Homo sapiens: one gene and its partner. The protein of the gene in region 1 purifies or fractionates together with the protein of each later gene. This does not show direct contact. Each region holds a gene or a part of one and is shown in the gene's direction. Other genes may lie near its edges. The genes, in order: ERICH5 and NMT2.

Region 1 (3,096 bases):
TCCAAGCTCATACAGTTGGAACAATGGCCAGAAGTAAAATGCATGTTTCTCTGCTTTCTGTTGATTTCTTTTCCCACTGTGCCCCCCAAATGACATGAAACTCAGGCTGAACTGTCTCTGCTACTTCCCTTCCCAGACATCTTAGCCTTTACCTATTAGGGCTTCTCTGCCACAGTCCTTTTTCCATTTGCTGGGGGCTTTCCTGTGTTAGAAGGAAAGTAAGACCTCTCTAGCAGCCCAAGGACCTCGCATCATGAAACCTTCTAAGTTTGGGAATCTTCTATTGCCCTCCCCGCCAAAACAAAAATGGAAAAAAAATTTTTTAAAAAGGAAACCTTCTAAGTCTCAAGAGGAGAAAGTGTGAGACAAGGAAAAGAAGAGAGAAACAGAGTAAGCTCAGTTAGAATCTGGGACAGGAGCCATGAAAAGATGCACAAGGAGCAAACAGGAGAAAACTGTGGTTTTGGAGGACTTCAGCGCTTAAGATTAAATGTTTGAGCTGAAGACAATAAAGGGATTTGACTGGGAGAGTGTTAGGGTCATGGTATGGCCTTTCTGTACTCAGATATATTTGGAACTGTCTTGAACTGTTAAATCTACTTTGTGATGTCAATTCACTTTTCAAGATAAAACTAAACAATAATTTGTGTTTTCTCTTTTCTTTTTCTTTTTCAAATGAATAACCAAAGTAACTTCAAATGAGCATTTTTCAACTGCAGAAGAAAGTGAGTCCTGCTTTGCCCAACCAAAGCCACATGCACTGGGAAGAGAATCTACTGTTGATGGCAATGTACAAAGGGAAAGCCGTCCTCCCTTACAAAAGCTCAAGGTTTCAGCAGAGCCTACAGCTAATGGTGTTAAACCCCTCCAAGAACAGCCCCTGGCCAAGGACGTAGCCCCTGGAAGGGATGCCACAGACCAATCAGGGTCCACAGAAAAGACTCAGCCTGGAGAGGGACTGGAGGAATCTGGGCCGCCTCAACCAGGTGGCAAAGAGGATGCCCCAGCAGCAGAAGGAAAGAAGAAAGATGCAGGAGCAGGGACAGAGGCCGAGTCTCTAAAAGGAAATGCTGAAGCTCAGCCTTTAGGACCAGAAGCCAAGGGTCAGCCTTTGCAGGCAGCAGTAGAGAAGGACTCTCTCAGAGCAGTGGAGGTCACTGAGAATCCACAAACTGCTGCAGAGATGAAGCCTCTAGGAACAACTGAGAACGTTCTGACTCTGCAAATAGCTGGAGAGCTACAACCTCAGGGCACAGTGGGAAAGGATGAGCAGGCCCCGCTTCTAGAAACAATTTCCAAAGAGAATGAATCTCCAGAAATATTGGAAGGAAGTCAGTTTGTGGAAACAGCTGAAGAGCAGCAACTTCAGGCAACATTGGGAAAAGAGGAGCAGCCCCAGCTTCTAGAAAGAATTCCCAAAGAGAATGTAACACCAGAAGTATTGGACAGAAGTCAGCTTGTGGAAAAGCCTGTTATGAATGATCCATTCCATAAAACTCCTGAAGGTCCAGGAAACATGGAGCAGATTCAACCTGAAGGAATAGTTGGAAGCATGGAGCATCCAGCACGAAATGTAGAGGCAGGAGCATATGTGGAAATGATCAGGAACATCCATACTAATGAAGAGGACCAACGCATTGAAGGTAAAAGTTATGCTGGCAAACCTGGATGTTTAGATGTGCTCCATAGGAGACCAGCTCTGGGGAGTGGGATGGGGTGACTGACACACAGTCCCTGAAGTCACTTTCAGGTGGTTGAAGTTCGTTTGACCAAACCAAAAAGGCTTCTGTGCCTGGGAAAGAGGCATTCTATTAATGCTCAGTTTGTCAGCAAAACTTTTCCGAAACATCATCTCTGTCCAAAATTTTAACCTAGTGTTTAAATAGTGTCTAACATTGAAGGCAACATGTGAAACTTTCTGAATTTTTCCAAGTTGACACTTCATCAGGCCCCATGTATGAAATCAGGATCCAAAGTAAAGGTGAATAGATGATTACTGGAGGAATTCACCTTCCAATGAAATGATATATACATAATGGATCTTAGAATGTTATTTTCATCTTTGTGAAGCTTATCTTAGAAAATGACTGTCAGGACAGGGTGCAGTGGCTCACACCTGTAATCCCAGCACTTCAGGAGGCAGAGGTGGGAGGATAGCTTGAGCCCAGCAGTTCATGACCTGCCTGGGCAACATAGTGAGACCTTGTTCTCCAGAAAAAAAAAAAAAAAGAAAGAAAAAAGGAAAAAGAAAATGACTGTCAGTCTGCTCTTGTTCTTCTGCAGTTTTAAAATCTGTATGAGAAGACCAGAGAAAATGTACTATGTCTTAGCATATGGTGTTTTAAAATTTTAACTGTATTTTACCAGCATAAAACAAATGATGTTTACAGTGTTCTTTATTGGTGTTATAATTTAAAAAAATATTTTCTTCTGGGGTATGATTTACATTTTGGTAAATTTTAGCTTCACAGTTCAGTATACTTAAGTGAAGCATTCATTATAATCATCCATCTGTTTTTGTTTAATTCTTTCATTTATTTATTTTATTTAATTAATTTATTTATTTTTTGAGATGGAGTCTTGCTCTGTTGCCCAGGCTGGAGTGCAGTGAAGTGATCTCGGCTCACTGCAACCTCCACCTTCTGCGTTCAAGCGATTCTCCCGCCTCAGCCTCCTGAGTAGCTGGGACTACAGGCGCACACCACCATGCCCGGCTAGTTTTTGTATTTTTAGTAGAGACGGGGTTTCACCACATTGGCCAGGCTGGTCTCCAGCTCCTGACCTCATGATCCACCCGCCTCGGCCTCCCAAAGTGCCGGGATTACAGGCATGAGCCACCATGTCTGGCCAATTCTTTCATTTATTAACTCAGCATTTTTTGGCATGCCTAAACATATGCTAGGTGCTGAGATGCAGACTGAGGAAGAGATAGTCTCTGTCCTCAAGGGGCTCACTGTCTAGTGTGGGAAGGCAGGATGTGCGTGCATCACCATAGTCTGTTGTGGGAACTGCTTTCCTAAGAATGTGTAAGAAGGGCCCTGGGAACAACTTGGGAGAGGCAAATAAAAGCAGGTAGTTTTTACATCAGGATTGGCA
Region 2 (3,825 bases), on another chromosome or scaffold:
GTTTTTAAATAATGGACTAAATGTCTTTAATGGTTATAGCACTATTCAGATGATCTGTTTCATCTTGGTTGAGTTTTAATAGTTTTTGAGGAGTTCATCCATTTCTTCTAAATTGTTGAATGTATGAGTGTAATTAATGTTCATTTTATTCCCTTGTTATCCTTTTAGTGGCTGTGGGATCTGTACTGATATCTCTTCTTTCATACCAGATATTGGTGATTCGTGTCTTCTCTTTCTTTGTTTTTGTCCATATTGGTAGACTTGTATCATTTTATTGATTTGTTTCCCAGAGAACCAGACTTTTGTTGGATATTCCCTGTTGTCTTCCTGTTTTCAGTGTCATTGATTTCTACCCTCGTGTTTATTGTTTCCTTCTGTCTGCTTGCTTTGGGTTTATTTTGCTCTTCTTTTCTAGTTCCTTGAGGGAAGAACTTACTGACTTGAGACCTTTCCCTGTTACTAGTAAGCATTTAGTTCTATCAGTTTCCCTCTCTGCACTGCTTTAGCTATTTCTGACGTATTTTGGTATGTTGTATCTTCGTTGTCATTCACGTCTATGTATTTTTTGGTTTCGTTTGAGGCTTCCTCTTTAGCCCACCCCTACTTAGAATTGTGCTGTTCAATTTTGCTGTGTTTAGAGATTTTCTGTTGTCTCCCTATTACAGATTTCTAGTTTGATTCAATTATGGTTAAAGAACACACACTGTATGGTTTTGATTATTTTAAGGCTCTTGAGGTTTGTTTTATTACTCGGGATATGGACTGTCTTGATGGATATTCCATGGGTGCATGAAACGTGTATACCACTACGGTTGTGTGGAGTGTTCTTTGTATGGCAATTGCATCATGTTGATTAATTGAGTTATTCAGCTCTTCTGTTTCCATGCTGATTTTCTGTCTAGCAGTTCTATCACTTGATGAGAGGGGCATGGAAGTCCCCAGCTGTAATTGTGGATTTGTCTATTTCTCCTTCCAACACTGTCAGTTTTTCTTGATTTCTTCTGGGCCTCTTGTTTGATACTCACATGTATATTAGGGTCTTTGTGTCTCCCTAGTGGATTGATCTTTTTATCATAATGTAATACCTCTCTTTCTAATAATTTTCCTTGCTCTGGAGTATACTTTATTGTATATTACTGTGACCAGACCTGCTTTTAAAAATTGTTTGGACTTTTTCCATCCTTTTACTTTCAAACTATTGATGTTATTGAATTTGAAGTGAGTTTCTTGGAAACAGCCTATAGCTGGGTCATGTTTCTTTACCCACACTACTGATGTTTCTTTTGATTGGTGTATTTAGACCACTTACATAAAAGGTGATTATTGGTATGGTAGAGCTTAAGTCTACCATTTGATTATTTGGTTTCTTTATGTTTCTTCTGGTTCTTGTTCCTCTGTTTCTTTTTTCTTGCCTTGCTGTGGATTACTTGAATATATTTTAGGATACTGTTTTATTTATAGTACCTTTGGGTGTATTTGTATAGTTTTTATGATGGTTGATGTGAGTATTACAATATATATATGTGACTTATAGTCGATTGGTAACAACATTTATTACTTTGAGTCACCTTACTTTTATTTAGGTCACTTTACCTTTTTCATTTTTAAATATTGTTGTCTTAAATATCAGACAGTATTATGATTTTTGTTTTAATCATCAAGTATGATTTGTAACACTGATTAATAATGATGCTTGAGGAGAAGCATAATTTATTATATGTAGCCCAAATTTCTACTCTATTATTCTTCCCTCCTTCCTGATGCTTCAAGATTCCTTCTTTTATTATTTCCTTTCTATTTGAAGAAATTCCTTTAGCCAGTCTCAGGGTATGTCTGCTAGTGACACATTCTTTTGGTTTCCATTTGTGTGAGACTACCTCTGTTTTTAGATTTAGTTTCCCAATTTTTTTTTTTAATTTTTTTTGGAGACAGTGTCTTGCTCTGTCACCCAGGCTGGAGTACAATGGTGCAATCTCTGCTCACTGCAACCTCCGCCTCTTGGGTTCAAGCAATTCTTGTGCTCAGCCTCCTGTGTAGCTGGAACTACAGGCGCATGCCACCACACCCTGCTAATGTTTTGTATTTTAGTAGAGACGGGGTTTCACCACGTTGGCCAGGCTGGTCTCGAACTTCTGAGCTCAGAAAATCCACCCACTTTGGCCTCCCCAAGTGCTGAGATTACAGGCATGAGCCACCATGCCCAGCCCTAGTTTGCTAATATTTTACTTAGGATCTTCTATACTCACTACTGAGGTTGGCCATTAATTTCCCCTTCTTACCCTGTCCTTGTCCTGTCTTGATACCAAAGTTAGAATGAGCTGAAGAGCTTGTCCTCTCTTTTCTCTGGAACAGTGTATGTAATAATAGGGATTACTTGTTCCTTGAAAGTTGTTAGAAGTTGCTTATAAGCCATCTAGACATGGTGCCATGGTGGGTTTTGTTGTGAGCGGGGTTTTTTTGTTTTGTTTTGTTTTGTTTTGTTTTTTATCAGTCTTTACAATTGATTGGGTGTGAGGGACAATGGAAAGATCATCCCACTCTTCCCCAACAGTTGGTGATTCTCTGGTCATTTTAACAGCAAGAGAGGAAACAGTAATTTTACCAGCAATATGAATGTGAAGAAGTAGTTTTCTGAAAGCAGATGATGAAAATGGGGTGGGGAACCTAATCAGGTTCTGCAGGTGCCTGCAGTAATTCAGCGTATGAGATGGATATGAGAAATTCTTAGAAGAATCTAAAATCCTTATTAAACCTGAAGGTTGAATTCATCTCCAATACTGAGCTGCTAATATAGAGCAGTAGGGAATCACTGTAGATTAACCCCTTTAGTTTCTTGCTGGCTGAAGAAAGGTCTAATGACTCGGAAGCCTTTGAAAACCAAAGCATACATCCTTCTGGAATTTCCTTTTCTGCTGAAAGAAATACTAGCAGTGGCATGTGTGTGGTCCAGCCTCTTCAGCCGCACGATTCAAACACATCATATTCTAAAAGTCAGCAAGGCCACCACAGCTAATTACAACAACCCGAACAATACTGGCTAATTTCTTGTATTGGAAGCTTTGCCAGTGATGATGAAATGAATGTCATCCATTGTATCCCTTATTTTTGATAGCTGCAAAATTCTCCAGTTGTTCACATGTGTATATTTTGGTGCAGTAGTAAGACCTTTCACAAGCTTGCGAACTCTTCCAAACAGCTTCCAGACTCTACCCAACCTTACTTAGGCCTGATATAATTCTTTCTGTGTGCTAAGACAGTGTGAGATAGTACACAGTATCTTTTAGTTGGAGAAGGCAGCCCTCTAATCCTTAAAGCTTTTATTTCTGCAAAAACAATGAATCTGCTTTTATCACTGTTCCCTTAGTCTAAAGAATTGACTCATTTGTCAGCCTGAGGGAAGCTTTCCTTTTAGGACATTCTGCTTCTATCTTTCTTTCTTTTTTTTTTTTTTTTTTTTTTTTTTGAGTCTCATCCTGTCGCCCAGGCTGGAGTGCAGTGACACAATCTTGGCTCACTGCAACCTCCGCCTCTGGGGTTCAAGCGATTCTCCAGCCTCAGCCTCCCAAGTAGCTGGGATTACAGGTGTGCGCCACCACACCTGGCTAAGTTTTCATATCTTTAGTAGAGATGGGGTTTCACCATGTTGGTCAGGCTGGTCTCGAACTCCTGACCTCATGATCCACACGCCTCATCCTCCCAAAGTGCTGGGATTACAGGCATGACATTCTGCTTCCTAAGAACTTTGTGCAAATCACCAATGGGCACTTAGGCTGAAGTCCCAACTCCAGGCCCTTCTTGGCCTCTACACAGCACAATATAAGGGGC

What was found.
Region 2: the proteins of ERICH5 (region 1) and NMT2 purify together in Homo sapiens (affinity purification with mass spectrometry; one large-scale study listed by BioGRID and IntAct). This does not show direct contact.

The regions. Positions count from the first base shown.
Region 1 is NC_000008.11:98,088,387-98,091,482, forward strand, and holds part of ERICH5 (glutamate-rich protein 5), read left to right. Parts: intron 1-689; coding exon 690-1,643; intron 1,644-3,096.
Region 2 is NC_000010.11:15,113,102-15,116,926, reverse strand, and holds part of NMT2 (glycylpeptide N-tetradecanoyltransferase 2), read left to right. Parts: intron 1-3,825.